Linked DNA regions of Homo sapiens. The protein of the gene in region 2 purifies or fractionates together with the protein of the main gene of each other region. This does not show direct contact. Each region holds a gene or a part of one and is shown on either strand. Other genes may lie near its edges. The genes, in order: SLC35A5 and SEZ6L2.

Evidence for each region.
Region 1: the proteins of SEZ6L2 (region 2) and SLC35A5 fractionate together in Homo sapiens (co-fractionation; one large-scale study listed by BioGRID). This does not show direct contact.

What each region holds. Positions count from the first base shown.
Region 1 is NC_000003.12:112,578,928-112,582,746, reverse strand, and holds part of SLC35A5 (UDP-sugar transporter protein SLC35A5), read right to left. Parts: intron 2,202-3,819; coding exon 1,421-2,201; intron 77-1,420; coding exon 11-76; 3' UTR 1-10. UniProt on the Homo sapiens protein: Probable UDP-sugar:UMP transmembrane antiporter involved in UDP-alpha-D-glucuronate/UDP-GlcA, UDP-GlcNAc/UDP-N-acetyl-alpha-D-glucosamine and UDP-N-acetyl-alpha-D-galactosamine/UDP-GalNAc transport from the cytosol to the lumen of the Golgi.
Region 2 is NC_000016.10:29,882,462-29,886,280, forward strand, and holds part of SEZ6L2 (seizure 6-like protein 2 isoform 5 precursor), read right to left. Parts: intron 3,289-3,819; coding exon 3,125-3,288; intron 1-3,124. UniProt on the Homo sapiens protein: May contribute to specialized endoplasmic reticulum functions in neurons.

The DNA.
Region 1 (3,819 bases), on a different chromosome or scaffold from region 2:
TGGGTACCAGTTAGAAAGTATCTTCATCTGACTCATCACTCTTGGGTTTGGTAAGTCTTTCTAGTTCTTCTCCATCCTAAAAGGAAACATGAAAGCAGTAATTAGAACAAAACTGGAAATGTAGCATTTTTAAAGGGAAAACCTTACTAACAAATCACTGGTCTTACCTCATTAAGCTATAGATATAATCTGGTCAAATTAAATAAATACTTATGTTCTTGGAAAGTTAACTATAGAAGTATGAGAGGATAAAAAAGTGAAGTGTACTCAGTACTCAAAATTTCAAAGCTAACATGAGCAAAGTGAGGAGCACCACCTGCTGGTCTTGCAGAAAAATGATTAAAGGTTACAGAAATAGGTCTTCATAGGCCTTGTTACCTATATAGATTTTCTTTTGCTTAAAAATTAGAGCAAATGGCATTATCGGCTGTTGGAAAAGAATACAAGACTTCTGGATATACACTCTGGCTAAGAGCAGGGTATCCGAAACTCAAGATCCTAATTTTTTCATCTTTAGAATCTGTTGAATCATGACAGAGGCATTACACCCAGGGAAGCTCTGCTATGAATGTTATTAAGCAATAGATTATTTTTCCCAAAGAGTGAAATGTTCACTGTATAAAATATTTCATATTTTGTGTGCTCAAGAAAATTGTAAATCTAAAGCTAGATGTCTATTTCACTTATTTAAACGTATATTTAACTCCTTAATTGAATCTTCAAAGAGATCATTAACTTGCCAATAAAATGATTGACAGAGCCTTCCAAAACAATTGCAAGCAACTGGGAGATATTCGGAATAATTGCATAAGCATTTTTCTAGAAAATATTTTCCTCCTACTCGCCTTGCAAGGATCCTCTTGAAAACTACCTTTCTAGTGAAATAAACAAACCCTGCCCTTCTGGCATACTGGCTTATGAATAACCACAGGGAGGACTGAGGAGCCAGGCTTTCTATTCAACAGGACTTACTAATACGAAAGGCCAACTTCTCTCACAAATGAGCTTATTTTCCCTAACTATGGTGGAAAAGAAAGAGAAAGGGACTTGGAGTCAGACATAGGTGTACCAGTTCTTTCATTTATTATCTGTAAACCATTTTGCCTGTTTCTTGTAAAACTATGCAGACAGGACAAGACAACCTGTGAGGTATCTTCCAGGTGTATAATTCTATAGTATTCTATGAAGTAACACATAAGGTCCTTGAGATTGACTTATACTTTTTCTCTACACCTGACAGCATTGATTATGAGCCCTTGCAAACATCAGGAGTAAAAGGAATGTTTGTTGATTCGGTTTTAAAAGTCAGAGATCCAATACATTCTTTGACAAATCAGTACTGATTTTATTTTTTTCCTTGAATTAACTATGCTTTAAATTTGGGAAGAACAAGCAAAAAGGAACACCCTCACAAACTTACCCCACTGGAACGCTCCCAAAGATTGCCACTTAGATCTCGGATCCTTTCTTGCCTAGGTGCGTATTCCGGAACTTGAGGCTTGCTGGCATTATAAATAAATATAGAGAGAAGGACTGATGGGGCTTCCAAGAAAAATTCCAGGGAGGGCCTGAAGTCAAAGACCAGGACAGACACTGTTGTGATAATGACAGTGGTAACCTGGGCCATCAAGACATGGAACATGTTATCCAGGAACTTCAGAATGAAAGCCACTGAAAGGCCCTGGAATGCAGTTACAAAAATAAGGGCTACTGAAAATGCACTGTGGCCATAAAAAAATCCACAGTTCTTAATCTGATCACGGTTACTCCTCTGAAGGCCCAGAGTCAGCCCATTAAACAGAATGCCAAAGAAATAGAGTTTGCTGTTCTGTATGAAGATGCTTTCAGTGAGCTGGTTCCCTTCCTTCAGTATCTTTTCATTATAGATATTAGCCATTGAAGAAATAAAACACTGGACTATAATAAGAACATGGCCCATGCCAAGACGGATGTGACTGAAAACTCTGGCTGTGGTGTTCCATTTAGCTTCAGGAAAAGTCCATTCCTTTGCTGTACAATTGTCTTTTCTGGGACACTCACTTCTGAAAAGAAGGCAGGAATTGGAAGGGCTGAAAAAGGCATCGTGATGAAATCCACGTCCTGCCAAGTTGTGCTGTAAAGTTTTAGTCCCGGCAGTCAAGGCCACAATAGACAAAAATAAAGTCAGGAGGGAAGCCCACTGGATCCAGTTTAGACGCCTCCTGTTCAAAGATGAAAAAAAAGATTTTACTACTGTTTTCCCCCCATATCAATAGTTTCTACTGAAAACTCAGACACTTGAGTATTTGGTTGAATAAACTGGACCCAGTTTTTGCTAGCATTTCCTACCACTCAAGTTCAGAGAAAAACTGTTGGTGCCTGTCTCTCAAATTTAATGTTTTAATTCATTTTTATAACACCTATCCCCTAAGGCTGCTCAAGTCATTTCCCTTCTGTGTAGGTTTCCTTTTAACCTACAAGTTTAACATGGCCTCCTTTCTACCTCTAGAGGTATCCTGGACCTCTGGCACAGTAACTTTTATTGTACTATAAAGTTACAGCAGAGATTCTCAACCTGGTTTCCCAGAACCAGAAAGAATGTAGATGAGCTTCAGAAATGTTGTGTACAGATGAATTTCCCCCTATGCAGGAGATCCTGCAAAGCTTTGTCAAATCTTTAAAGGTGTCCATAACCCAAAAAAGATTTAAAGGAGAAGGTTAGCTCTAGATCCATGTCCTAATCGTAGAGCATTAAACAGCAAACTGCTGGCTGACAAGCCAAAGAAAAATGTTATTTTGGGCAGTATTTCAGTTTACAAAGTCCTAACAATCCTTTGTTTATTTTCCTTAGCAACAAACTTGTGAGAAATAAAGGACATGTACTATTATTATTCCATTTTGCTGATTCATTCTATTCAACAGATGTTTAATAAGCAGCTACTACGTGCCAGGCAACCTGGGGCGATAAAGATGACTTATCTCCATGTTCAAGGAATTTATGCTTTAACAGTGAGAAAACAATGAAACTAAATGATTTCAGTATGTGTGAAAAGTGATTAATGGGACAAGTGGAGTAAACTGAGGAACACTACAATCTGTAAATAGTCAGGTATTGCTTCAAAGAGGAAATGACACTTGAGCTAGAAGATGAAAAATTAATTGAAGTTTATCATGTGAAAAAGGAGGTGGTGATATATCCAGGCAGAGGGAAGAGTCTCTATGCAAAGGCAACAAGAATGTACAATGTTGACAAAGAGGAATATCTCACTTTCATTGGCGTTGTCAGGAGGCCTCTTGGGGGAACAAAATCTTGATGTTTGAAGATCAGTTAGTTAGGCAAAGAAGGGGAACACCGAGAAAAAAAGAGGAACATAAAAAATGCAGAAGTGTAAAGCAATAGGTGGGAACCAGAAGTGAGAATTTTTATATCATTGGAGCATTTATTGAGCACCTACCATACACTTAGGCATTTCCGCTCTAAGGGAGGAAACAGTTAACCTAACAGATTTCCCTAAGGTCATGTACTTAAACACTAAAGAAGGGATCGGATCCATGGTTTTGTATGTCTTCCTTCTGCATCATCACACCTCCTAAGTATAATTCTAAGTTTCCAGGATGCACATATAGGAAGTTGTGTGCATATAAAGCTTCATGCTCTGAAACTGCTAAATGCACAGACTAGCCTAGATAGCAGCATACCTGTGCACACTATTATATGCTTTCTCATATGTATGTAATTTTCAAATAGCCTGATCTAGAACTTACTGATGGCGTTAGCGCAGCCTTATGCCATCAGGTGAGAAACTGTGAACTAACCACTTAAATTTCTGAAGGTGCAGC
Region 2 (3,819 bases):
AGCTACTCAGAAGGCTGAGGCAGGAGAACCACTTGAACCCGGAAGGCGGAGGTTGCAGTGAGCCGAGATTGCGCCATTGCACTCCAGCCTGGGTGACAAGAGCGAAACTCCATCTCAAAAAAAAAAAAAAAAGGAAAAAAATGAGACAGGGCCTTGCTCTGTCACCTAGGCTGGAGCGTGCAATGGTGGGATCACAACTCACAGCAGCCTTGACCTCCTGAGCTCAAGCGATCCTCCTGCCTCAGCCTCCCAAGCAGCTGGGACCACAAGTGTGCACCACCACACCTGGCTAATTTTTTGTTTTGTTTTGTTTTGTAGAGACAAAGGTCTTGCTATGTTGCCCAGGCTGGTCTCCAACTCCCAGGCTCAAGTGATCCTCCCATCTTAACCTCCCAAAGTGCTGGGATTACAGGCGTTAGCCATTGTGCCTGGCCACAGTGAAGAATCTTAAACTCATAGAATAGCAGTGGCCTACAACTCTGGAGTCAGGACTCACAACTTGCTATTTTCGGTAAAAGATCTGTGCTGTTTGCACTTTAACACTCCCAGAATCTATCCCGCAATTCATTTTTGCAGATCCACTGTTCTATTTCACTGTTACTTAACCTGCAAGGTATCATGTCCAAATCCTACCCATCCATCACAGCCGAGTGCCAATTCCATTTCTCCCATGATTCATATCAAACACTAGACCCTCCTATCTCTAAGCATTTCATCTTTTTGGTCTCTCTCTTGCTACTGTTTATACAACTCCTCTGTTTCAGCCACAATGAAATTCTGTTTCCCAGACATACCAGGCATTTCCCTACTTGCTGTTTCTCAAAGTTCCTCTCTTTCCTTTTCTTTTCTTTTCTTCTTTTTTTTTGACAGGGTCTTGCTCTGTTGCCCAGGCTGGAGCACAGTGGTGCAATCATAGCTCACTGCAACCTCTGGGGTTCAAGTGGGGTTCAAGTGATCCTCCCACCTCAACCTTCCATGTAGCTGGGACTAGAGGTGTGTGCCACCACACCTGGATAATTATTACTTTTTTTTAATTTGTAGACACAGGATCTCACTATGTTGCTCAGACTGGTTCTCAAACTCCTGGCCTCAAACAATCATCCCACCTTGGCCTCCCAAAGTACTGGGATTAGAGACACGAGTCACCACAACTGGCCTCAATCTTCCTCTTTTAAAATATCCTCTGTTGGCTGGGCAGGGTGGCTCACGCCTGTAATCCTAGCACTTTGAGAGGCCGAGGTGGGAGGATCACTTCAGCTCAGTAGTTGGAGACCAGCCTGGGCAACATAGTGAGATGCTGTCTCTACAAAAAATGTAAAAATTACCCAGGCATGGTGCCGAACGCTTGTGGTCCCAGCTACTAGGGAGGCTGAGGCAGGAGGATCACTTGAGCCCAGGAGGTTGAGGTTGCAGTGAACCATGATCGGGCCACCGCACTACGGCCTGGGCGACAAAGCAAGACCTATTTCAATAATAATAATAATAATAATAAAATACCCTCTATCCTTTAAGGCCAAGGTGAAATGCCTCTTCCTCCATGATCACTTCCTTGTTTCTACCCCTTCACATTCATTCCTCTTCTTCTGGTAACGGCATCCCAATTTTAATTTTGGGACGCAGGCCTTCCCCACTCCCAGTCCACTAGGTTAAGTTGGAGCCCACCAGGGAAGGCCACGTGAGGCAGATTAGCCAATCCCAATACTCCCTTCTCCTAGCTCAGTGATTGGCTCAGGCTAAGGCCAACCAGGATCTTAGTCAGGTCAATGAACGCCTCTCCTGGCATTTTTGCTGAGCTCTCAGGAAATATATGAGTGTTCTCTCTGATGAGGTTACTCGGTTGGTGGTATGGGCTGGAGGAGGTGGCTTACACCTGTAATCCTGGCACTTTGGGAGTCCCACATGGGCGAATCACTTGAGCCCAGGAGTTCAAGACCAGCCTGGGCAACATGGTGAAACCCCGTCTCTACTAAAAACCCAAAAATTAGCTGGGCGTGGTGATGCATGCCTGTAATCCCAGCTACTCGGGAGGCTAAGGAATGAGAATCGCTTGAACCTGGAGGAGGGGGGCTGCAGTGAGCTGAGATCGCGCCACTGCACTCCAGCCTGGGCGACAGAGAGGAACTCTGTCTCAAAATAAATAAATAAATAAAAATAAATAAAAACTAAAAACTGTCAGGCGCAGTGGCTCACGCCTGTAATCCCAACACTTTGGGAGGCGGAGGCGGGCAGATCACCTGAGTTCGGGAGTTCCAGACCAGCCTGACCAACGTGGAGAAACCCCATTTTTACTAAAAATACAAAATTAGCTGGGCATGGTGGCGCATGCCTGTAATCCCAGCTACTCGGGAGGCTGAGGCAGGAAAATCGCTTGAACCCGGGAGGCAGAGGTTGCGGTGAGCCGAGATCATGACATTGCACCCCAGCCTGGGCAACAAGAGCAAAACTCCGTCTCAAAATAAATAAAGGCCGGGCGCGGTGGCTCACTCCTGTAATCCCAGCACTTTGGGCGGCCGAGGCAGGCGGATCACAAGGTCAGGAGATCGAGTCCATCTTGGCTAACACGGTGAAACCCCGTCTCTACTAAAAATACAAAAAAATTAGTCGGGCGCGGTGGCGGGTGCCTGTAGCCCCAGCTACTCGGGAGGCTGAGGCAGGAGAATGGCGTGAACCCGGAAGGCGGAGCTTGCAGTGAGCCAAGATGGCGCCACTGCATTCCAGCCTGGGTGACAGAGCGAGACTCGTCTCAAAAAATAAATAAATAAATAAATAAAATAAAAATTAAGTTGGTGGTATGTAAGTCGGCAGCTATGTCCATCACACAGGGAAAGTGCCTAAGGATGAAGCCAGCACAGAGGAAAGAACCGAGATACTGAGATAACTGGTCTCTGGGCTATGTACCTGGATCCAGACATTCATGAAGCTTAAACAGAGAAGGCTGCCTGGGGGAAGGAGAAGGGGTCCCTAGAAGAGATCCTTGCAGTTTTGGGGCAGGGAAGCGAGTCACGTTTCAAGGAACCCAGCACGGAGATGAACAGGCATAGAGTTTGTGCTTCCGACTATGCTTGGTGTCAGGAAGAGGGGAAGGTGTGGCGGTTGGGGTCCTGTGGGGGAGTGGGTCACTTACCTTCAAATCGAAGGCTTAACAGCAGGGGATTGGCAGGTGTCTCTGACAGCAGCTCCACGTAGAGGGACTGGGCGTCACTGATGAGACCCCGCTCGGGGACATCGTCCATGTCCGAATCATAGATCACGGGGGATAGGGGGCTGCCCCCTGAGCGCACCATCAGCCTGGGATGGACAGAAACGTGACCAGGAGCTCAATCTCCCTCACAAGCTGCCTCACCCCTTGCCTGCTTTCCTAACTTATTTTTATAGCTGTTATCATCACACATAACTATATGCCACGCACTCTTCTAAGCCCTTACACATTCTATCTCATTTAATTTTCACAAGAACTCTTGAGTCAGACACTATTATTATCCTTTATTTTATAGATGAGGATATTAGGGCATAGAAAGATCAAGTAACCTGTCCAAGGTCACAGAGCAAGTAGTGGCAGGGCTGAGATACCAAGTTGCTAGGTAAAGGATGATAATGATGATGAAGATAGCAGATGCTTGACCAGGCATGGTGGCTCAGCTCACACCTGTCATCCCAGCACTTTGGGAAGCCAAGACGGGTGGATCACCTGAAGTCAAGGAGTTCAAGACCAGGCTGGCCAACATGGTAAAACCCCATGTTTACTAAAAATACAAAAATTAGCCAGGCATGGTGGTGCATGCCTATAATCCCAGCTACTCAGGAGGCTGAGGCAGGAGA